6 separate regions of the Homo sapiens genome follow, and all the other regions are linked to region 1. The links come from fine-mapping of genetic effects on gene expression. A gene starts in region 1. Each other region holds a variant in brackets. All regions are shown on one strand. Distances are from middle to middle. Region 1 holds the start of ABAT (4-aminobutyrate aminotransferase). Region 2 overlaps ABAT (4-aminobutyrate aminotransferase). Region 3 overlaps ABAT (4-aminobutyrate aminotransferase). Region 4 overlaps ABAT (4-aminobutyrate aminotransferase). Region 5 overlaps ABAT (4-aminobutyrate aminotransferase). Region 6 overlaps METTL22 (methyltransferase 22, Kin17 lysine).

What was found.
Region 2: its variant is fine-mapped to the expression of ABAT in whole blood (INTERVAL, PIP above 0.99).
Region 3: its variant is fine-mapped to the expression of ABAT in whole blood (TOPMed, PIP above 0.99).
Region 4: its variant is fine-mapped to the expression of ABAT in whole blood (TOPMed, PIP above 0.99).
Region 5: its variant is fine-mapped to the expression of ABAT in whole blood (TOPMed, PIP 0.93).
Region 6: its variant is fine-mapped to the expression of ABAT in whole blood (TOPMed, PIP above 0.99).

Annotation. Positions count from the first base shown.
Region 1 is chr16:8,672,235-8,676,322 of GRCh38, reverse strand. It overlaps ABAT (4-aminobutyrate aminotransferase), which reads right to left and starts at 1,706. Exons shown (of 16, transcript NM_020686.6): 1 at 1,612-1,706. RefSeq lists a silencer at 1,654-2,113 and enhancers at 1,708-2,207, 2,208-2,709.
Region 2 is chr16:8,713,326-8,717,413 of GRCh38, reverse strand. The region is part of intron 1 of ABAT (4-aminobutyrate aminotransferase); the gene reads right to left. Among named protein-coding and RNA genes, the nearest start is that of ABAT, 41 kb to the right of the region's middle. The variant A/TA (reference allele first, on the strand shown) is at 1,781.
Region 3 is chr16:8,771,221-8,775,308 of GRCh38, reverse strand. ABAT (4-aminobutyrate aminotransferase) reads right to left here. Exons shown (of 16, transcript NM_020686.6): 12 at 2,392-2,529; 13 at 252-419. Among named protein-coding and RNA genes, the nearest start is that of TMEM186, 24 kb to the left of the region's middle. The variant C/T (reference allele first, on the strand shown) is at 1,540.
Region 4 is chr16:8,728,255-8,732,342 of GRCh38, reverse strand. All of the region lies in intron 1 of ABAT (4-aminobutyrate aminotransferase), which reads right to left. Among named protein-coding and RNA genes, the nearest start is that of ABAT, 56 kb to the right of the region's middle. RefSeq lists an enhancer at 1-289. The variant G/A (reference allele first, on the strand shown) is at 2,393.
Region 5 is chr16:8,697,525-8,701,612 of GRCh38, reverse strand. All of the region lies in intron 1 of ABAT (4-aminobutyrate aminotransferase), which reads right to left. Among named protein-coding and RNA genes, the nearest start is that of ABAT, 25 kb to the right of the region's middle. The variant C/G (reference allele first, on the strand shown) is at 2,180.
Region 6 is chr16:8,629,631-8,633,718 of GRCh38, reverse strand. All of the region lies in intron 3 of METTL22 (methyltransferase 22, Kin17 lysine), which reads right to left. Among named protein-coding and RNA genes, the nearest start is that of METTL22, 10 kb to the right of the region's middle. The variant C/T (reference allele first, on the strand shown) is at 1,765.

The DNA of each region.
Region 1 (4,088 bases):
GTGACCTTGAGCAAGTCTCTTCCCCTTTTGTGCCTCTGTGTGTTTAACTGTCAAATGAAGGGGCCACGTCTTTAATGCAGAAGCCCTTTTAGGTCTTAGGACTCCAGACTGGACCATTTACCTCTCCCCGTGGCTAACCTCTTTGGGCCTCGAGAAAACACATTTCTCTATGACTCCACGCCGCAACACAGGCTCCAAAGAGCAAGACACAACTCACTGCCTCCCTCTCTCCTGCCTCCCAACCTGACCCACCAGAGAAGAGCTCTTCCCACCCCCTCCCCACCCCCAGGTCACCAACATCCTGTCCCTTAGTCTAGCTTCATCAAAGCAGCAAAGCCAACACTGTCTCCTCCCCAGTGGATGGGCCCAGCAGCACCCATTTCTCTTGGCTGAGTGCCCAGGGAATTCCACCAGGCAATGTCCACAGGCGCTTGCGGGGGTGCACACTTTAGGGGGGAAATGCGGGCCCTCTTGGAAGAGGGCCAGCTGTCCTCCCAGACTGCAAGAGAGAATGCATTGAACACAGCCTTTGTGCGTGTGTTGGGGCAGGGAGCGGGGGAGAGGTGGCGGGTGGTCTCTGCTGGTCCTGCTGCCTCAGAGGCCATCTCTGTTGTCAGAGTTTGAAGACTCCTGGAAGGGCCTCTAGGCCCCAGATCCCAGTTTTAAGAGCTCCAGTCTTACTAAATCTCGCTGAACCCCCTCTAGTCTTACCTTGGCCAGGGTGGGTGAGGAAAGGTGAGAGGATGTGAAATAGGTGGGGCAGCCAGGTGTGGGAGTGGAGTTGGGGTGAGGTGGAGAAGGATGGGATTGGGAGCGGTGGGAGGATGGTGCAGGGGGTTACTAGGATGGGGTTTGTGTGAAAGGGCTTGGGTGGAGTGGAGGGAGGTGGATGACTTGGAGGGGTGGCCAGACCTTTGCCCTGCTCCTGAGTATGAAGGTCCCTCATTTTACATCTTTACTGGGGAGGAGAGGGGAAATCCCCAAAAGCCTTTAATGTGGTGGTGTCAGAGGCCACCCTGCCTCTCTGACGGGTAGGGAGGGGTCTCCGGCAGGGCTAAGGGTGAATCATCTATCTCTCCAGAGCCCAGTATCTGGGGTGGGAGGGTGACTTGCAGAGTCTCTGCTCCGGGATTTCCTTGTCTTATGATGGGGGGAGAGCTTCCATTTGTCATGGAGGGGGAGGTCACTGTAATTTATAAGCTGAGAAGACCCCCATTATTCCGAAAGAGAGGGGAGAAGGAAGACACCCAAACTTAGTTTTCTAAGGATGGGGAAGGGGCATCAGTCTCCCAAGAGGTGAGGGGGCTCTAGAGACCTGGAGACCACTTTTTGGGGCCGCATTCTATTTCAAGCGGTAAAAGGGAGAGGACTTCTGTCTAGAGCTGGAGCCAGGAGGAAGGGCCCATTTCTGAAGGAGAAAGGAAGGTATTTTGCTCTCTGGGGGGTGGGAGCCCCTGTCTTTTCGGGGGAGGGCCCCGCGTCTTGGGAAGATGAGGGCTCCGTTTCCAGGAGAAGATGCCCAGGTTTTGCTCCTGGGGGCAGGGCAGAAGGACCTCCTCTCGGCTCCCCTCGGAAGGGCCCGTCCCAAGCCACCCGGCGCCTCGCGCTCACCTCCAGGCCCCGTCTCCGATCTGCGGGATCCGATCCGCCGGGTTCCGACTTGCGGGATGCGCGCCCCGAGTTCCGGCAGCGCTGGGTGTCTGCTCGACTTCCCCCAGCGACTCGCCGGACTCCCTGGCTCCGCCGAGCGTCCCGGCCAATCAGCGCCGCCAGCCCCGGCCCTCGCTTTCGCCACAGCCAATGGGTGCGCCCGCCACGGGCCACCGCCCCCAGGAGGGAGGTGGCAGGCGGGGCGGGGGCAGAGTCCAGCCTCCGGGGGCGGGGGAGACGGGGGCTGGGGCGGGACCCACCAGAGGGACCGCGAGGGCTGGGAGGGAGTCCTGGGACTGGGGAGGAGACGGCTGAGGACCCCCGTCAAGTTGTGGGGACCCTGACCCTCTGGGGGGCAGCTCCATAGGTTGATTTAACCTGGATCTTAATGGGCCATTTACACCCTCAGGGCTGCAGGCGAGTGTAACTCCACCTCCACCCGCGTCTCGGATCCGGTCTCTGGAGCTCCAGAGTCGGAATCAGAAGGGGTTCCTTTGCGGAGAAGGGAAGGAGCATCCCGCCCTCCCCACCTCACTCCCCATCTCGGCGCTCAGGGCCCTGCCAGCCCTTCTTGCTCCCAGCTACTTTCCTCCGCCTGGCCCCAGCGCTCCGGAAGACAAACAGGGCGCTGGGAGTCAGAGGTGGTTCCTTCTGCATGACCTGGAGCAGGTCACTGCGCCTCCTGATCCTCAATTTCCTGAAATTGGGACAACAGAGATTGTACCTCCTTCGTGGGTATAAACGAGACCCTAGATATGATGAAGGTGCCTTTCTACCGTTGTATAAAATGCTGTGTGGAAGATAATTAATACTCAGGTGTGACGGATGGATAGCCCCCCCACAGCTTTCTAGAGGTATTTGGAAAGAGGATGCAATCTTTCAGTGACAAAATCAAAGACACAAAGAACTGCTCATCAAGACAACAGGCGATCACCAAGTCCTCATAATGAATGAATGGATGGATGGAGAGTACAGACCTTAAAGGCAGAGAAAGAGTTCAGCTTGGTTCTCCCCACTCACCCTGATCACTGATAACTTGGTCTGTGGAGTCTTGTAGAACCCTGAGGTCTCTCCTCCTGCTGTCCAGGAATCCAGGCTGCCCTATCTCTGATTACACAAGCGCTATAGTCCTTGCAATTAAAGAATTAAGATAAAGTAAACACATAGATAAATAGAAAGCTGCCAAACAAATCATTCACCTCCTAGTGTCACCTCTGGGGACCCTCCCCCCCAACACACACACACACACACACACACACACACACACACACACACAGAGCAGTAAATAAGAATAATTGAGGCCTGGCACAGTGGCTTACGCCTGTAATTCCAGCACTTTGGGAGGCCGAGGCAGGCAGATCACTTGATGCCCAGAGCTCGAGACCAGCCTGGCCATCATGGGGAAACCCCCTTTCTATTAAAAATACAAAAATTAGCCTGGCATGGTGGCACCTGCCTGTAATCCCAGCTACCTGGGAGGCTGAGACATGAGAATCGCTTGAATGGAGAGGCAGTGGTTGCACTGAGGTGAGATGGCACCACTGCACTCTAGCCTGGGTGATTGTCACCTTGCTTGAGGAACTTGATGAGGCCTGTGCTGAAAATCTAGCAATTTTTTCTTAAAACCAAAGCCATGAACATAATCCCCTTTACTACCCTTGACCTGCCCAAAGAAATACAACGGCCAATAAACATGGGAGATGACACTTTGAAAAGGAAAGGCAAGTTAAAACCAAAAGAGGGAAAGAGTTTACCTACCAAAATGACCTTGTTTTTATTATTATAATTACTATTCTTTGCAAAGACTTCAAGGAGTTTCATGTATTGATGATGGCAGTAGAAAGATCACAGCCTTTCTGGAGGGAAATTGGGTATTTCTATTTTAAAAATCTTAAAAGTAAGTTGACCCTTTGATCTAGCAATCCAATCCCTATGAACTTATCTGAAAACATTTAAAGGTACAAAGATTTAATGATAAAGTAGCTTACTACCATTTTGTTTATCACAGGGAAAAACTGGGAACAACTTGAATGCACAACAGCAGGGACTCAGAGGGAAATTGTTGCATGAAATTGAACAATAAACATAGGTATGAAATATTGAATGGGGCTGGGTGTGGTGACACGCCTGTAATTCCAGCACTTTGGGAAGCCAAGGCAAGAGGATCGCTTGAGCCAAGGAGTTCAAGACCAGCCTGGGTAACATAGTGAAACCCTGTCTCTACAAAAAATACAAAAATTATCCGGGCGATGTGGCGCATGCATGTAGTCCCAGCTACTCAGGAGACTGAGGCAGCCTTGAGCCTGGGAGGTTGAGGCTGCTGTGGGCCAAGATTACACCACTGTACTCCAGCTGGGTGACAGAGTGAGACCCTGTCTCAAAAACAAAACAAAACAAATCTCAAAATGTTAAGTTATTTGCAAAAACAGTATATTTGG
Region 2 (4,088 bases), 41 kb before region 1:
GTAGCCATATGAAAAAAGCAAAAACAGCTGAAACCAATTTTTTTCATGTATCTTATTTAACCCATTGTATCTAAAATGTAATAATTTTGATACATAATCAATATAGTTATTATTATTACTTTTGAGATGGAGTTTTGCTCTTGTTGCCCAGGCTGAAGTGCAGTGGCACAATCTCGGCTCACTGCAACCTTCGCCTCCCAGGTTCAAGCGATTCTCCTGCCTCAGCCTCCCGAGTAGCTGGGATGACAGGTGTGTGCCATCACTCCTGGCTAATTTTTGTATTTTTAGTAGAGACAAAGTTTCACCATGTTGGTCAGGCTGGTCTCAAACTCCTGACCTCAAGTGATCCACCCGCCTTGGCCTCCCAAAGTGCTGGGATTACAGACGCGAGCTACCGTGCCCGGCCATCAATATAGTTATTAATAAGATATTTTGCATTTCTTTTTCGGATGTGTGCTAAGTCTTCAAAATCTGGTGTGAATTTCACACTCACAGCACATCACAGTTTAGAATAGCCACGTCTCAGATGCTCAATGACCAGATGTGATGAACGGCTACTGTACTGGCCTGTGCGGGCTGACGCATTGCATCAGAATTGGAGTGTGGTCACAGGAACATACAATCTGACCTGCTGAAATGCCACGGCCTGCCTGGGCCTGTCTGCTGCAATGACGTAGGCACAAGTAGTTTAGTCTAGGAGAGGCTCTCAACGGGATCCAATAAAAAGGGAGAGCAGACAGGGCTGGCTACATGATGTGTGGGACCCAGTGCATAAAATAAATATTCGAGGCCCCTTGTGAGAAAATGGTTACGAATTGCAAGTCAGTGACATGGGGGGATCTTCTGAACACGGGACCCTGTGTGACCATATAGATCACAAACCCATGAAGCACGCCCTGGGTACAGAAGAAAAAACACCCTTCAGGTTTCCCCATCACTGGCCAAGGTGAGGGTGCTGGGATCACGACTGCAGCAACAAATACAATTAGCAGCAGCAACAGCAGACACTTGCTCAGCGCTTACTTTAGGCCAAACCCTGTTCTAAGTTCTTTATATATCATAATACCCATCAGAACAACCTTCTGATATTATAATTATCCACTCGTAGCAAAAAAAAGAAAAAAGGAAACAGATCACAGAGAGGTTAAGTGATTTGCCCGACATCACACAGCCATGTAGTATCTTTAGTACTAAATTTCACAAAACAGGGGGTGGGGGCATAATGTGGCCTGGGCTTACAACTAGCTGTGCCTCTGTTTTCTCCACTGGAAAATGGGTGTGATAGAGCTCTCCCATCCCCAAGCTGCTCTGAGGATGAAATGAGATAATCCACGCGCAAAGCTAAGCAGAGTGCCCAGCCTGGGCACTGGAAAATCTTCAGACCCACATAAAAGTTATGAACATAGTTCCACAGCCGCTTGTAATCCTCGAAACTGTTAACATTTTGCCACACTCGTGCCCACTCTATTATCTGTCTTCTGAATTATTTGAGTTAGTTGTGGACATTGTGATATTTCATCCTTGAATCCTTCAGCCTGTATCTTCTAAGAACAAGAATGTTCTCTTACATAACCTCAGTACAAATGATCTGAGATACAAAGTCACTCTCATGAAGGTACCATTAATAAAATACTATTATCTTTTTTTAATTTATTTATTATTGGCATATTCATGACATAAAAATACTATAAATACTATTATCTAACATACAATCTATATTCAGATATTCCCACTTATCCCTAAAACTTCTTTAATTGTTTTTTTTTTTTTTTTTTTTTTT[A/TA]GAGACAGGGTCTCGCTCTATCACCTAGGCTGGAGTGCAGTGGCATGATCATGGCTCATGGCTCACTGCAGCCTCGAACTCTTGGGCTCAGGTGATCCTCTTGCCTCAGCCTCCTGAGTAGCTGGGATCACAGGCACACACCACTATGTCTGGTTAGTTTATTTTTATATTTATTTTTTGTAGAGATGGGGTCTCCCTATATTCCTGAGGCTAGTCTCTAACTCTTGACTTCAAGTGATCCTCCTCCCTCGGACTCCCAAAGCACTGGGATTACAGGTATGAGCCACTGAGCCCAGCCCACAAGTGTTTTCTGTTCCCCTGATCCAGGCTTCATCCTAGGATCAAACATTGCATTTGGGCTCATGGCTCTTTAATCTCTTTTAACCTGGAACCATTTCTCAGCCCTTTTGCCTTTTAAAAGACATTGGCGTTTTAGGAATCCCAGCCAGTCATTTTGCATGTAGTTGCGTGAATAGTCTTCTTTATGTCCTTGCAAAATGAAGTGCAGCTCACGGGCAAATGTGGAGAAAGAGGTCGGTTGGACATGTGATGTCAGAGGGTCCAAGTGATTTCTGCAGGTAGAGGAGGGCGTATAGTGTTAGCTGTTCTTGGGTGGAAGTTAAAGATTTCCGGGAAGCAGTGACGGGATGTTTAACGATAATTAGAGCTTGGCAGGTAGACAAGGGCAGTCGTGGCAGACAGAGGCCAGGGTAGGGGAAGGGGGATGGCAGCCCGGAGGAAATGCAGGCAGCAGCAATGTGTCTGAGGGTGAGCGTATCGCGTGTGATCGGGTCTGTTCCTATTTGAACTGGAAACTCCCTGAGGCCAGTCCTTGTCTCCGGCTCTGTCCTCTCCGCCAGGGTGCCCAGTGCCTACTCCAGAGTCAGGGTTCACTTAGAGCAACCGGCTGCCAAGTTTCCCAAATACCCAGGGACATGCAAAGCACAGAGGACCCCCTTCCTCCGGCAGCGGCCTGGCTGCCAGCTTGCACACACCAACTGCAGGATCTTCAGCGCCAACCTTTCAGGATTCCCACATCTTGCCCTGCAAATGAAATTGCATTTTCTAAAATTGCTTTCTTCTGGTTGCCTCTTGGGGCATAGGCTGCTTCTGGGAAAAAATTCAAAATGAACTTCTAATCAGCCACAAGATGTGAAGAGAGCGGCTGTCCAGAGCTTCCTGACATCTACTCTTGGCGTGAGCCGCCCTGGCTGTCAACTGAGATTCTCACTGCAAACTCTATCTGAAATGCCCAGTGACAGCGCCCCCTGAGCCTTCCATTCCCCTGAGTTTCAAAGAGAAAGGGGTGTGTGTGTTTGTGCTGTTCTTGTCCTTAGAACGAAGGGAAAGGATTTATTTAGCGGCTTGAACAAAAATGCCTTTTCAAGGTGACCCTCACTTCATTTCCTAGGACCAGATGCAGGCGGACTGTGGTGTTGCAAGCCTATTGATAAGAGCAATTCCTTATCTCATCATTTCTATATCCATCTTTCATTATTTTGTCCCCACTTTAAAGGGTCTCCTCCTGCTGTGTTCACAAAGTGTCCTTGAAAAATCTGTTAAGTACATTTGTGTGTCCTACACACAGAGAGCCAGGCACATGTGCACGCATGTACACAGATGCACAAGGGTGTGTGCCCCCCCGACCTGCACACCCCAACACCACAGATAACAGGCACTGACAGACACTGGCACCACCTCCCCATGGCAGCAAATACATACACATGTAAGGATGCACACAGAGACACACATACACATTTGCACTCACGGTGCCTGGTAGTCGGAGTCCTGCGGCGAGCTCAGCTCGCTTGCTTAAAATGCCTTCTGTATGCCATTCTGCAGAGGCCAGGAACGCAGCTGGCTGGGTTCATCCTAAGAGGTGCCGTTGGGCACCAGCTCCCTCCTCAGGAGGGTGTCCCGGATTTCCAGGCAGTCCCCAAAACATGGGGACAGGTGGAGGAGACAGAAAAGGGCCCCTTGGAAGCAGAGCAGGTTTGGGAAAAGGATGCACTCAGCTGGTACCCGGCAAGTGCGCAAGGGAGAGGGACGGAGGGAAGGTGAAGGAGGAGGGGAAAGACAGAATGTGAGAGACTGAAAGATGGATTCAGAAAGACAAGGGTTTTCAGACAGAAACAGGATGCAACTACACAGAAACAAAGATTAACAGAGGCAGAAGGAGAGCGATAAACAGAGAGAAAAAAATAGAATACAGATTTTTTTTAAAAGATGTTTTAAGCCCAGCTTGGTTTAAGCCAGAAGGATAAGACACATCATTTCAGACCTTGTAAAATAGGCTATCTCCCTCCCC
Region 3 (4,088 bases), 99 kb before region 1:
ATGATATTATTGTGTGTGCACACAGAGAGAAAACAGGAAAAGGCTGATGGTGGACTGTTCCAGAGTTGGCCTTACAGAGAGAGCTGGGAGGGCACACCACTGCTAATTGCATTGATAAGAACTGGGACTTAGAAAACCTGCGACCCAGTAAGTGCCCACCCAGCTCCTCGATGGTGAGAAAGGAACAGTTAGGAGAAGAGGATGCTCCCTTCTCTGCCCTGGATGTAGAGAGAAGGTTGGCTCCAACTCACAGCATTAGGCCTGAACTCCTCCTTGTGGAAGAAGCCCCCAGTCATCATCTTCTTGCTGAAGGTCATCACGTCTGCTGGGTCATCCAGGCCCCAGTGCTCATGGGCCCAGAACTTGCCCGTGCAGCCTCCTCCGGTCTGGACCTCGTCCACCAAGAAGGCGCAGCCATGCTGGCCGGAGAAGAGAGAGGAGGGAGAAATAAACACCCGTGGGAGGCCAGAAATTCATGCCCTCCATAGCCAGCTAACTGCCAAACCCTGGGTCCACACACATCGTGCTTGTTTTCTGAAGAGCAAACCAGCCCCATGTTCTTGAGCTGTGCACAAAAAAAACTAATCAAAACACTTAAGCTGAGCAGTTCCAACCAGAGCTGAATCTGAGTGTTTCCTAAAACTGCTAAGCTGGACCAAAAAAACCCAGAACATTAAATACTCCCTGCACCAACACAGAGCGGTATGTCATCTGGCTTCAGTCTCGGGTCTCGACCTCGTCAGAGGGAGCTGTGTCCAACAGTGAGGCCTCGAATGTGCTTCTCAAACTTCAGCTGCCATGTTCTGCTTGTCACCAAGGCTATTTCTAACTCAGCATCTGTGTTAAGTCAACTCACGTCTTATAACTTTTATCTGTGAACTTATCGGTTTGATTGCCAGTTATATATGCACAAGACATTAAAACAAACACACAATATAAAGAAAGCAAATCAGTGTGTCAAAGAGATACCTGCACTCCCATGTTTATTGCAGCACTGTTCACAATAGCCGAGATACAGAATCAATCTGTCCATCGATGGATGAATGGATAAAGTAAATATGGTACATATACACACTCGGCAAGGCGCGGTGGCTCTCACCTGTAATTCCAGCACTTTGGGAGGCTGAGGCGGGCAAATCACCCAAGGCCAGGAGTCTGAGCCAATCAGCCTGGCCAACATGGCGAAACCCCGTCTCTACTGAAAATACAAAAATTAGCTGGGCATGGTGTCGTGCACCTGTAATCTCAGCTACTTGGGAGACTGAGGCAGGAGAATCACTTGGACCCAGGAGGCAGAGGTTACAGTGAGCCAAGATCGTGCCACTGCACTCCAGCCTGGGCAACAGAGTGAGACTGTCTCAAAAAAAAAGAAAAAGAAAATATGGTACATATACACAAAGAAATACTATTCAGCCATAAAAAGAATGAAATTATGTCATTAGCAATGACGTGGATGGAACTACAGGACATTATGTTAAGTGACATAAGCCACACATACACAAATATTGCATGTTCTCACTCAGGTGGGAACTAAAAACA[C/T]TTCCCTTATGAAGAAATAGAGTCGAATGACGCCTATCAGAGGCTGGCAAGGCTAATGGGGAGGTGGAGATAAATAGGGGTTGGTTAATGGATACAAAAGTACAGTTAGATAGAAGAATAAGATCTAGTGTCCAGTAGCACAATAGGGTGATTTTAGTTAATAATTTATTGCATAGTTCAAAATAGGAGTGGATTTGGAATATTCCCAATACAAAGAGATGATAAATATTTTAGGTGATGGATATCCAATTACCCAGATTTGATCATTACGCACTGCAACTATTATGTATCCAAAAAGGTTTTTTAAAAAGATTTTAAGGCCAAGTGTGGTGGCTCAGGCCTGTAATCCCAGCACTTTGGGAGGCTGAGGTGTGCAGATCACCTGAGGTCAGGAGTTCAAGACCAGCCTGGCCAACATGGCGAAATCTCGTCTCTGTTAGAAATACAAAAATTAGTTGGGTATGGTGACGTGTGCCTGTAGTCCCAGCTACTCGGGAGGCTGAGGTAGGAGAATCACTTGAACCTGGGAGGTAGGGGTTGCAGTGAGCTGAGATTGCACCACTGCACTCCAGCCTGGGTAACAGAGTGAGACTCTGTCTCAAAAAAAAAAATATATATATATGTGTGTGTGTGTGTGTGTGTGTGTGTGTGTGTGTGTGTGTGTATAGTTTTAGGGAAGAATCCCCATTCTTTCACCAACCCCAACTTCTCCACCCCTGATGCTGACAGACAGCCTCTGCAAGTCTGGAGATTGACAGAAGCTCCAAGGCAGAGGTGCTGCTGGCCCGTTACTCGGGGAACTCAACCCAGAAAACCCAATGGCTCCATCCAACCTCGGCCCTGTCCACTGACCTTCCTGGCGATGTCTCTCAGCTTCCGAAAGAAGTCATCGGATGCGTGGTTGTCTCCACCCTCGGACTGGATGGGCTCCACGATGATCCCGGCCACCGTCTTCTTCTTTTTCCGATATTTCACAATCAGATCCTCCACCTGGATCCCAAAGGGGAAAGTGACCACCGATGGCAGAGGCTTGTGACCAGTATCCGTGGGTGGGAATCTGGGGTTCGATGAGCCCCATGCAATTTTATTGGAAATGTGTTTGTGTGCATTTCCTAAGACCAGTGAAGCCTCTGTTAGAAGCTATGTGTGTGGATGGGAATGTATCCTACTTGAAATCGGTGCTAGCACCTGGGTGGATACAAACTAATAAATTGGGGCAAGTAATTTAGCTTCAGAAGCCTCACTTTCCTGATGTGTTGTATGGGCACACTGACAGAATCCACCTTCCAGGGTCGTGGAGAGGACTGAATGAGAAAATATAGCACTATGAGTTGATTGCTGGGCCAGATGTTTTAGCTGTGGTTCTGCCTCTGTTTTACATGGAACATGCACCTGTCACTTAACCTTGTTATGTGGGAAATAGCTACATCACGGGTATATTGAGAGAAATAAAGGTGAGAGCATTCACACACACACACACACACACACACACACACACACACACACACACACACACAGAGACAGAGAGAAAATACAGCAGAGTCTGGCACACATAAAGTGGTGGCTGCTACTATTACGATTAGCACGACTATATTATTATTGATTATTATTGTTCCTATTCTTACAGTATTATTGCTATGATTGGTGTGAGAATCCTTTTGGGGCAGAATCGGAGATATATCCTCGGTTAAAAAACTGTTCTAAGGGCCAGGTGTGGTGGCTCACACCTGCAATCCCAGCACTTTGGGTGGCTGAGGCAGGAGGATACCTTGAGGCCAGGAGTTTGAGACCAGCCTGTGCAACATAGCGCGGTTCATGTCTGCAAAACATTTAGAAATTAGCTGGGCATGGTGGCTGCGTGCCTGTAGTCTCAGCTACTTGAGAGGCTGAGGTGGGAGGACCCCTTGAACCAGGACTGTGAGATCGCAGTGAGCTATGACCACACCACTGCACTCCAGCCTGTGCAACACAGCAAGATCCTGTCTTTGTTAAAAAGAAAGAGGCTGGGCATGGTGGCTCACACCTGTAATCCTAGCACTTTGGGAGGCTAAGGCGAGCAGATCACCTGAGGTCAGGAGTTCCAGACCAGCCTGGCTACCATGGTGAAACCCCATCTCTACTAAAAATACAAAAATTAGTTGGGCATGGTGGCTCACGCCTGTACTCCCAGCTACTCCAGTGGCTGAGGCACGAGAATCGCTTGAACCCAGGAGGTAGAAGTTGCAATGAGCCGAGATATCGTGCCACTGCACCCCAGCCTGGGCAAGAGAGTGAAACTCTGTCTCAAAAAAAAAAAAAAAAGAAAGAAAAACCCTAAACCGTACACCTAGATAGACTAACAAGTGAAAGCTTTCTTTATTATGTACAATTAAGAAAAAGCCTCTGTTTGGGTGATATGATTTTGACCTTGGTCTCCACCAGTCACCCCAAGGAAGCTCTGAGATACTTTTCTTGGTTTTCTTTTTTTTTTTTTTGAGATGGAGTTTTACTCTTGTTGCCCAGGCTGGAGTGCAATAGCGCAATCTCAGCTCACCGCAACCACCACCTCC
Region 4 (4,088 bases), 56 kb before region 1:
CAGAGACCTTTGTTCACTTGTTTATCTGCCGACCTTCCCTCCACTATTGTCCTATGACCCTGCCAAATCCCCCTCTGTGAGAAACACCCAAGAATTATCAATAAAAAATAAATAAATTAAAAAAACAAACAAACAAAAAAAAAAAACAAAAAAAACCTAAAGTAGTCAACCTCCTAGAAACAGATAGAGGGTCTGGGCATGGTGACTCATGCCTCTAATCCCAGCACTTTGGGAGGCCGAGATGGGTGGATCACTTGAGGTCAGGTGTTCAAGACCAGCCTGGCCAACATAGTGAAACCCCGTCTCTACCAAACATAAAAAATTACCCGGGCGTGGTTGTGAGCTCCTGTAATCCCAGCTACTTGGGAGGCTGAGGCAGGAGAATCACTTCAACTCGGGAGGCAGAGGTTACAGTGAGCTGAGATCGCACCACTGCACTCCAGCCTGGGCGACAGGGCGAGACTCTGTTTCAAGGAGGAAAAAAAGAGAAACAGAAAAAGAGGAAAAAGAGGTTGCCGAGGGCTGGGGGAAGGGAAAAAAGGACATTGTTTAGTGTGTTTGGAGTTTCAGTTTGCAGGATGAAGTAGTTCTGGAGCTTCACTATACAACAAAAGTGCTTATAATACCGTACTGTATACTTGAAAATGGTGAAGATGGTAAATTTTATGTTATCTGTGTGATTTTTAAAATAACAATTAAAAAAAAAAAAAGAAAAGTGATCCAGGAAAGACATTGGTGTTGAGGTTGACATACCTATCAAGGACAACTAGACAACTACCACGGCTTCCAGTGCTTTGACAAAACTCAGGTGTGTGGCCTTCTGGTCCAGAGTCTGCCATTTCACATTGTTGGAGCAGTCATTGTATCCCTGAGAGTTGCAGCTCTCTATAAGTTTGCTGTGGCTGAACCAAGAAACAAGGCATATGTAGAAGCGATGAGGATGGCTGTTATTGTTCAGAGTGCAAAGTGATTTTGGAATATAAAGAATTTCTTTGGGTTGAGTTACCTAGAAGTTTATCACTGACCTGTGTTCCTGAACTATGAAACATGAATATGGGGGCTAAGAAATAGTTTCTCTTTGGGCTGGCAGGGTGGCTCACTCCTGTAATCCCGGAATTTTGGGAGGCCAAGGCAGGTGGATCACTTGAGGTCAGGAGTTCGAGATCAGCATGGCCAACACAGTAAAACCCTGTCTCTACTAAAAATACAAAAATTAGCTGGGTGTGGTGGTGCACGCCTGTAATCCCAGCTACTCAGGAGTCTGAGGCACAAGAATCGCTTGAACCTGGGAGGCGGAGATGGCAGTGAGCCAAGATCACACCACCGCACTCCAGTCTGGGTGATAGAGTGAGACACCGTCTCACACACAAAAAATTAGAAATAGTTTCTCTTGATAAATAAACAATTAATGAGTACTTTGGACAGTAAACAAAGTAAAACTATTTTTTTTAAAAGAAGCCATGTGGTTTACCCAGGACACAGCAAGTTGCTGGTGGAGCCAGCGTTGGGGTTGAGAGATATCTGGCTCAGGAGTCCTGGCTTGTGCCTAATGCATGGATTTATTGCGAGTTGCAACACCTGAAACTTACTCTGTGACAGACCCTGGGGACGCAGCCCTTTCCTCATGCAGCCCTGGCTTGGGCTGCCTAACTCTACCCAGCCCCACAGTGGACAGAAATTCCATCCTAGACCTGGATGAAGACCAAGAGGCTTCTCCCACCCCCTGCTTCTGTGATGACAGCATATAGGAAGTGCCAACCAGAGGTGATAAATACAGACCTAGAGAGATCCCACAGCTGGAGGGGAGGCCTGTATCCAAGGAGAGAGAACAGGGCAAGGAGGAATGACAGGCGGGTTCAGAGTACAGGTTCAGGTGCTGGGAAACACGTGGGCTCAGCAGCACAGGGCAGGAATAGTGTGGAGAATCAGGCACCGAGCCCAGGATGGCGAGTTCCAGCACGCTGTGGCTGCCCACAGAGCTAATAGAATGTTGGCTGTATTATTAGAAGGAAAGAGTGAATGAAGGAGGGAGGCGGTTGCCATTGATGCATTTGTGCTACGAACATTCATGGTACACCTACCGTGTGCCAGACCCTTCACTGGGCACTAGGGCACATAAAGATCAATTAGAGGCCGTCCTTACCCTCTAAGCATCATCAAGTACTGGGCACTTGCTATGTGCAGGCTCTCAGCTGGTGCTGTAGAACCATCTCGTTTCATCCCCAGAGCCCTAGGAGGCAGCTCCTAGAAGACAGAGACAGGTCATTATCCTGTCTTCAGGCAACTGAGGTACTATCACGGGTGGGGTGGGGTTGGTGCAGGAAGTATCTTCTGGGGTGTCTGCTCTGCACTTCCTTCCTCCCCCTTCTCAGATACTTCCCCATTCCTCTGC[G/A]GGGGCATAGACCTGGCCCTACTGGCCATGGTTGACTAGACAGGGCTGGGCCAGAGTCCTGACACTCTCTACCCACTGAGATGATCCAGCATTCAAACAGGGTCTTTTTTTTTTTTTTTTTTAAGACAAAAAAGGGCTAGACAAAAGAAAGACTAGAGAGCAGTGGCGTGATCATTGCTCACTGCAGCCTTGAACTCCTGGGCTCAAGAGATCCTCCCACCTTAGCCCTGCCAAGTAGCTGGGACTACAGGCATGCACCACCATACCCAGCTAATTTTTAAATATATATATTTTTTAGAGACAGGGGTCTCGCTGTGTTGCCCAGGCTGGTCTCAAACTCCTGTGCTCAAATGATCCTCCCATCTTGGCTCCTGAAGTGCTGGGATTATAGGCATGAGGCATGGTGCCTGGTCTTTGTGAGACATTCTGAAGGGTACATTACTCCCTTCTCTTTGCTCAAACATCTATAGGAGTAGGGTAATCTCCCTGTTCAGAGATGATAAAAGGGAGGCTCAGAGAGGTTATGACATTCGGCCTCAGTCATAGGCTTACCTGAGACTGTCTGACCCCAAAGCCCCTGCCTCTATGCATTGTAACATCAGTTAATCCAGCTAATAACAAAACTCCTAGCTGTTTTTGTTTTTGTTGAGACAGGGTCTGGCTCTGTCACTCAGGCTGGAGAGCAGTGGTGTAATCTTAGCTTACTGCAACCTCTGCCTCCCCCAGGGTCAGGCCATCCTGCCACCTCCCAAGTACCTGGAACTACAGGCGAACGCCGCCACGCCCAGCTAATTTTTTTTTTTTTCAGTAGAGCCAGGTTTTTCTCACGTTGTGAAGGATGGTCTTGAACTCCTGAGCTCAAGTAATCTGCCTGCCTTGGCCTCCCAACGTGCTGAGATTACAGGCGTGAGCCACCGTGCCCGGCCCCTAGCTATTGTTGATATGAGGCTTCATGAATAAAAATGACGTAGTTCACAGAATAAATTTTATTGCTTTTCACCAGAGGAAACTTTCTGAGAAAGTGTGGGCTTGGAAAGTGTGGCCATGAATTAACTGAGAAACCAAACTCTTTGTTTTTGAGATGGAGTCTTGTTCTGTTGCCAGGCTGGAGTACAGTGGCGTGATCTCGGCTCACTGCAACCTCTGACTCCCTGGTTCAAGCGATTCTCCTGCCTCAGCCTCCCGAGTAGCTGGGATTATAGGCATGTGCCACCACACCTGGCTAATTTGTGTATTTTTAGTAGAAATGAGGTTTTACCATGTTGGCCAGAAGGTTCTCAATCTCCTGACCTTGTGATCCACCCGCCTCTGCCTCCCAAAGTGCTGGAATTACAGGTGTGAGCCACTGTGCATGGCCCAAACTCTTTTCTTAATAACTCAATGGATTTTTTTTTTCTATTCCAGGATATCCGACTCAATGCAAGCCTATTAATTTAGCAACAGAGTAACTGTGTAGAAAGTGCAGTTCATGTCTTTCCCTTAAAACCACTTGTCTGAAACAGGGAGCACTGAGGCGTCACACAATTCAATTTCCATTAAACACGTTTTTGAAACTCCGAATGTCTCAGAGAACTCAACATTTGAATATTCTGCAAAAGTGAGAGCCAATCCCACACGTTTTCAATTACAAAATGTCACATTGGAAAATATACCGTGGTGACATTTTGGTGGCCTGCAGTTGAAAATTGACCTTATA
Region 5 (4,088 bases), 25 kb before region 1:
AATGCAGTAACCATCAGTATTTTAATTATACAAAAGGAAAAACTGAGGCACAGCAAAGTGAAGTCACCTGCTCAGTCACATCGGATAGTGAAGAGCAGAGGTGGGGTCCAACCCATCGGGGACTGTTCCAGAGCTTGTGGCCTCTGGCCAGGCAGGTCTCACCCTCTCCTTCTAAGGGCAGGGCCTGGCCAATAGTGCATGCTTAGTAAGGGTGAGTGCTTCTCTTCCCAGTGTTCACGTTATTCACTCCAGATTTGATTACAGCTCACTACCACGTTATTCACTGCAGATTTGATTACAGCTCACTACTATATGCTCCTGTGGCACAGAACATGTTTCCTTCACAGTCCATACTGCTGTTGTTAAAGAATTAAGGTCAAGACTGGTATTGTGGCTCACGCCTACAATCCAAGCACTTTGGGAGGCCCAGGTAGATCACTTTAGTTCAGGAGTTTGAGAGCAGCCTGGCCAACAGGGTGAAACCCCGTCTCTACTAAAAATACAAAAATTAGCCAGGTGTGGTGGTGTGTGCCTGTAGTCCCAGCTACTTGGGAGGCTGAGGCAAGATAATTGCTTGAATCCGGGTAGCAGAGGTTACAGTGAGCCAAGATTGCAGCACTGCACTGCAGCCTGAGTGACAGACAGAGTGACACTCCATCTCAAAGAGAAAAAACAAAACAAAGCAAAAAAAAAAAAAAAAAGAATTAAGGCCAGCATGGCGGCTCATGCCTGTAATGCCAGCACTTTGGGAGGCTGAGGCAGGATGACTGCTTGAGCCAGGGAGCTCAAGACCAGCCTGAGCAACATAGTGAGACTCTGTCTCTAAATTTAAAAAAAAAATGTTTTAAAATGCGCCAGGTGTAGTGGTGCACACCTGTAGTCCCAACAACTTGGGAAGCTGAGTGGGAAGACTGCTTGATCCCAGGAGTTCAAGGCTGCAGGGGAGCTATGATCAAGCCACAGCACTCCAGCCTGGGTGACAGCAAGTCAATGTCTCTTTAAAAAAGGGATTAATTGTGGGATTTCACAAACAGTGCAGAGGGAGACGCCTGACATCAAGGAGTATCTACGGTATGATTCCGTTTATAAAGTTCTAAAATAGGCTCAGCTAATCTATGGTGAAGATGTTAAATAGCAGTTACCCACTGGGGTATGAGGGAACTTTCTGGGGGCTGGGGACGGTCTAGATCTTGATCTAGGTGCTGGTTACATGGTTGCATTCTCAGGTAAAAATTCATGGAGCCGCGTATGTAAGTTTAGTGCACTTTGCTATGTTAAGTTATTCATCAACTTACAGATAAAAGGAGGAAGAGAATATCAGGAAAGTCCAGCCCCCTTTCCCCAAAATTAATTTTGCAATTTTAGTTAATGGCTCTTCTCCAAGTAACCACAAGCTGTGAGAGGGCAAAAACCACACCTGCAATACTCATGTCTGTATCCTACACCCAGCACAGTGTGCGTTCAGGACAAGCATCAAGAACTACTCACTGCAGGCTGGGCATGGTGGCTCACACCTGTAATCCCAGCACTTTGGGAGGCAGAGGTGGGTGGATCACTTGAGCCTAGGAGTTTAAGACCAGCCTGGGCAACATCGTATAACTCAGTCTCTACAAAAATTACAAAAAAAAATACAAAAATTAGCCAGGTGGCACACGCCTATAGTCACAGCTACTTGGAAGGCTGAGGTGGGAGAATCACCTGAGCCCAAGAGGTCGAGGTTGCAGTCAGCCGTGATCGTGCCACTGCACTCCAGCCTGGGTTCTGTCTCAAAAGAAAGAAAGAGGGAAAGAGAAAGAGAGAGAAGAGAAGAGAAGAGGAAATATTCACTGCACCAGCCTGGGCAACATGGCAAAACCCTGCCTCTACAAAAATTACCAAAAAATATCAGCCAGGTGTGGTGGTGCACACCTGTAGTCCCAGCTACTCAGGAGGATGGGGTTGGAGGATCGTTTAAGCCCAGGAGGCCAAGGTTGCAGTGAGCCGAGATCACACCACTGCACTCCAGCCTGGGTGACAGAGTGAGGTCCTGTTTTATTTTATTTTATTATTGTTTTTGAGACGGAGTCTCAGTCAGTCACCCAGGCTGGATTGCAATGGCACGACCTCGGCTCACTGCAACCTCTGATTCCCAGGTTCAAGTGATTCTCCTGACTCAACCTCCTAAGTAGCTGGAATTGCA[C/G]GTACCTGCTATCATGCCTGGCTAATTTTTGTAGAGATAGGGTTTCACCATGTTGCCCAGGCTGGTCTTGAACTCCTGACCTTAGGTGATCCGAGGCCCTTTAAAAAAAATAATTCCCTGCAAAAATAAATAAATGAAGTAATCACTACTCAAGTGGCCATTTGTACATTCCAAAGATGGCCGCAACAGCATCTCCCCTCCCCAATCTCTTCCCTCTGTGACCTAGTAGTCCCTCACTGGGAGGTGGCATCTATCTCTTCCCACATTTGATCTGGGGCGGTTCTGTAACTACTTCAACCAAAACTATGTGGCACAGAGTGGAAAACAGGCGGTTCCTCAAAAAGTTAGACACAGAATCACCATATGACCCAGCAATTCCACCCCTAGGTACATACCCCAAAGACTGAGAGCAAGGACTGAAACAGATACTTATCTGCTGCTGTTCGTTGCAGCACTACTTATTTTTTGTTTGTTTGTTTTTTCTTTTTGAGACAGAGTTTCTCCCTATTGCCCAGGCTGGAGTGCAGTGGCGCAATCTTGGCTCACTTCAACCTCCACCTCCTTGGTTCAAGTGATTCTTGTGCCTCAGCCTCTCGAGTAGCTGGGATTACAGGTGTGTGCCACCAAGCCTGGTTAATTTTTGTATTTTTTTTGTAGAGATGGGTTTCATCATGGTAGCCAGGCTGGTCTTGAACTCCTGACCTCACGTGATCTGCCCACCTTGGCCTCCCAAAGTGCTGGGATTACAGGCATAAGCCACCGTGCCCTGCCAATTGCAGCACTATTCATAAAAGCCAGAAGGCCGGGCGCAGTGGCTCACGCCTGTAATCCCAACACTTCAGGAGGCTGAGGCAGGTGGATCACCTGAGGTCAGGAGTTCGAGACCAGCCTGGACAACATGGTGAAACCCCATCTCTACTAAACATACAAGAATTAGCTGGGTGTGGCGGCAGGTGCCTGTAATCCCAGCTACTTGGGAGGCTGAGGCAGGAGAATCACTTGAACCCAGGAGGCGGAGGTTGTGGTGAGCTGAGATCGTGCCATTGCACTCTAGCCTGGGGGACAAAAGTGGAACTCCGTCTCAAAGAAAAAAAAAAAAGAGCCAGAAGGGGGAAACAAACCCAAGGGTCCATGAGCATATGAGCAGATAAACAAAATGTGATCTCTCCACACAACAGAACAGAGCAATTGCTGAAGGAGGGCCATGTACTCAGTTATTCTCAACCACTCCTCCGGCAGCAGGCAAAGTTGGAACCCTAGAGCCATCAGAGAGAGTACAGTCCTACTGATCTCTGGATTTTGGACTTCTGGCCTCTAGAACTGTAAGAGAATAAACTTCCATTGTTTTGAGTCACTCAGTTTGTGACAATTTTTTTGCGGCAGCTCCAGAAAGTGAATGTATGATCTCAATGAATATTTTTACTGATCATGTCAGCTATTACTACTACCACCTCCAATGTACAAAGGATCACCTCCTGCAATTTAAAGCTTGCACAGGGTCAGGTGCGGTGGCTCACGCCTGTGATCCCAGCACTTTGGGAGGCTGACGCAGGTGGATCACTTGAGGTCAGGAGTTTGCGACCAGCCTGGCCAACATGGTGAAACCCCTTCTCTACTAAAACTACAAAAAATTAGCTGGGCGTGGTCGCTTGTACCTGTAATCCCAGCTACTCAGGAGGCTGAGGCAGGAGAATCTCTTGAACCTGGGAGGTGGAGGTTGCAGTGAGCTGCAATCACACCACTGTACTCCAGCCTGGGTGACAGAGCAAGACCCCATCTCCAAAAAAAAAACCAAAAAACAAAAAACAAACAACAAAAAACCTTTAACTTGCACAGGAGGAAAGGGAGTTTCAAATTCATACATGATTCCAAAGGCTTGGATCTGAACCCAGGCACTGACTGCAATTGC
Region 6 (4,088 bases), 43 kb after region 1:
GATGAGGAAAAGGTGGCTGGGTGAGGTTAGCAGGCTGTGGTCACAGAGAGGGTGAGTGGCAGATGCGGGGTTCCAAGTCAGGTCATCTGCAGTTTTCTGTCTCTTTCTGTTTTGAGACAGGGTCTCACTCTGTCATCTACGCTGGAGTGTGGTGGCACGGCCAAGGCTCACTGCAGCCTCCACCTCCCAGGCTCAAGTGACCCTGCCACCTAAGCCTCTCGAGTAGCTGGGGCTACAGGTGCATGCCTCCATGCCAGGCTAAATTTTTTTAGTTTTGTAGTTTTTGTAGAGATAGGGTCTCAGCATGTTGCCAGGGCTGGTTTCAAACCCTTGGGCTCAAGTGATACACTGCTTTGGCCTCCCAAAGTGGGATCATAGGTGTGAGCCACCGTGCCCGGCCTTTTCTAGCTCTTCAGCCTGCTTGGGGAAGGGAGATGTAGAATCTGAACCATGCCAGGGACACGGTTTAAAAAGCCTGGGGCAGAGCCTCCCAGGATGAAAGGGACAGGGACTCGCTGGGCAGGCTGAAGGCTTGTGTGCTTGTGCGTGGAGGGGAAGGGGTGTCTGTGGTCTACAGACCCCAGGCCCTCTGTGTCAGCGTCCCTGCCCAGTTCCTCTTCCCCAGTCCCACCCATGCCATCTCCTGGGTGTGGCTCGTAGCCTCCTCTCCTCTCCTCTCCCTCCATTGGCCTGGGAAAGCTTCCTCCTTGCCATCTGCTCCCTAACCCCAGCTGTCCTAAGGGTTCCTGCTGCCAGGGGAACCTTCTCATAGTGATCTTGGTCCTATGTGATTGGTCACTTCCTTCCAGGGGTCTCGTGGACGTAAGTTCTGCCTCCCAGCTGTCCTCAATGGGTGGCTAGCTTCCCTTGAGGGAGAATGAGGACTCTGAGGTCAGAGACCTGTATGACAACCCAGTTTTGTCATTTCCTAGCTGGGTGACAAGTCACTTAACTTCTTGGAGACAGAGCTACAGTTTCCTCTTTTGCAAAATGCAGAAGTAGCCTCATCCCTCATTTCTAAGGCTGTAACAGTGTTTAACCAGACAGCGCTTCTGAGAGAGCACAGGCTCGGCAGACATCTGAGAACCATTGAGGTGGTCAAGGACCCCAGCCCTTGCACAGGTGGAGATCACTGAAGCCCAGAAGGGGGACATGACCAGCCCAGGGTCATAGTCTGAGAAAAAAACATCTAATTAGATCAAAATGTGTCGAGATGGCCGGGTAGTGGCTCACACCTATAATCCCAGCACTTTGGAAGGCTAAAGCAGGAGGATCGCCTGAAGCCAGGAGTTTGAGACCAGCCTGGGTAACGAAGTGCAAAGTGAGACCCATATTTTTCTAAAGCCAAATAGAAACAAAAGAGGATTTAAAATGAAGTCATTTGGGAGTCTGACCAAGAACTGATCTAAGATGTGCTTTCTGCTGATGCTGATAACACGAGAAAACACCAGGGCGAATTGATAAGGGAGAGAACAAGAGGCTCAGGGATGGATCAAAGGAAGAAGCGGATGCTGTGCAACTCCCTGGGGCCAGATGGAAAAAGCCAGAATGAATTCCCCAGGAAGCTGAGTGTGGCCGACCTTAAGGGCACTCTCCTTTCTTGTGTCTGACATCCTCGACTCCGGAGTGCAGAGATTCCGAGGTCTACCCGACCCCTGCCCCGTTTCAGGCACTTGCTAGTGTTCGAATGGGTAAATATGCTTCTTCATGACTCATCAGGATAGTCAGAGATCACAACAAATGCCCAGTATGTCAGCCCTGGGC[C/T]GGGCGCGGTCCAGGTGGCTGCATAGGGGTGAGGAAGAAGGATTCAGTCTAGGGGTGGAGGCCCAGGTGACTTAGGGACCTCCCTACCCAGGGCCATCTTGGGGCTCCCACTCCTGTGAAAAGTCAGAGTTTATATTTAAATAATCCCAAAGGTATCATGAGAACATAAAAGACCAGCCTGAGGAACTATCCCCATGAGAAACTCTAGGGCTAGCAATGGGATGAGACAGTGTTAGAATCTCACCTGTCCTTATCAGATTCTAGAATTACGTCTTATCTCATTTGCAAACTGGGTCTCTAGACCTGCAGGAACCTAGACTGTTCGTCAGCCAGTCTCCCTCCTCCCAGCTTGGGCCAGTCCCCAGGACAGAGGCTTACATTTACGGAACACTGAATCCGTGCCAGGCATTACGCTAAGAGCTTTGTATGTGCTGTCTCTCTGAATTCCTTACAACTGGAGGAGGTTGTACCCCTTGTACAGACAAGGAAACTGAACTCAGAGAGGCTAAGCGACTTGCCCGATTCTCCAGCAGGAAGGCACGGGACTCAGAATCTGACGGCCTGAGTTCCAGCCCTGCCTTTCTCGAGTTCTCTTGGGGTCTCACTTTATTTCTACAGTGGGGGAATTGAACATAATTTCTTTTGAATCCTGGGTCTGTGGATTCCTGGCAGATCCCTGGATAAACTTTTTAAGGTTTTGTCAATCCCTTGGAATAGTTAAGAAAACACCTATTTTTCTTTTTCTTTAGAAAAACCAGTTTCTCAAATGGGTCTATAACTTGAAAAAAATGGGTTGATTTACGGGTCAGAGGAAAAGGGTTGTGAGGCGAATGACGTCTGCTTACCATCAACTCTGCGCCAGGCCCTGCTCCTGGCGCTCACTGGGCATGTTTCAATAAATTATCACTAAAACCCAGGGACAGTGGTTCCCCTGATCACGTGGTTCTGACCATGTGGTTCTGAGTGGGTAAGACATTTGTCTCTGGTCACCTGGCTTGTGAAGATGGAGCTGGGCTCAAAATCCAGCCCTGCAGGATTAGATCAAGTTTTGCAGATGAAAGTGCTCTAGCCAGTTTGAAATAATCACGAATTACTACCTAGGTTCATGCATTAGCTACCATTCCACTCTCCTCCGTCAGGGCAGGTAGTGAGTGACTGACAGCTGAAAAAGTGAACTTCCAGGTATACAGACAAGGGGGCCTCACCGTGAGGTCACCGGAACAGGGCAGGAGGGGAAGCTGGTCACAGGCCAGCCTCTTCCCGAGGGACTTTGTTCTTAGCTCATACAATGGTAAATTCCCAGAACATTCACTACAGACACAACAATTCACTGTGGAGTAACTGACAGGTTTGCTCCCCAGCTTGGGGAGGCTAATAACAGTGAGGGCTCAGAGGGAAATGAGCCATCGTCGGCCCCCCTGAGAAGCAGGACTTTCCAAGCCTCTTTCGAAAGCTCTGCCCCCATGATGTGGAATGACAGCACAGGCTGTGGCGTCAGACAGACCTAGGTACAAGTCTCAGCTCTGCCACTGACTAGCTGTGTGACCCCAGCAAGTTCCTCAACCTCGCTGAGCCTCAGTCTCTTCCTCTGTGAAATGGGAATACTCATCCCTATCTGCAGAGGCCATGAGGGCAGAGGTCACCCATGGGATACATGGAACTGGGTTCTGGTATGAGTTCCACGTTGCCCTCTCTGGGACAGTCTAGAACAGAGGCTGCTTGGTACCACCGTGGAGGCGCTTAGTAACTGTTTGCTGAGCAGATAGATACAGAGCTGCTGTTTTGTCTGTTTTTGAGAGTGACCCACTGACCCCCATTCTCTGACCAAAGGCCAGTGCTGGGGGAGGCCTTTCCCTGGGAACTCAAGACACCATCGGGGACCCTGGATCTCAATGAACGGCCTCAAATCACAGCTCCGCTCCCCAAATGAGCAGCGCCAGGGGGAGGCAAAGCCCTGGTGTGGACACTGTGTGGATTCGAAGCTCGCTCACCACCACCAAGCAGCATGGCGCTAGGCCTTTCACTTCCTCATCCATGCACCCCCTCAGGAGGGGTTGTGCAGACTAGGCCACTCGATACTAGTGAAGATATCCAAAACACGATAGGTGCTTAACCAGGACCGATCACTTCCTGGCCCAGCTCCCTACTGCTCCCGGTGTTTCTAGAGTGCCAGGTCCCTAGATTTCAAATCCTAGAGTCAGCAAACCCCTCTGCTCTGCCCCCATACCTGGGTAGCAGTTCCTCTTTGATCCCACCTCTGAGTATCTGTCCAAACCTCTCTCCTGTCCCACTTTTCCCGCCACTTCATCACTCCCCTTTCTTAC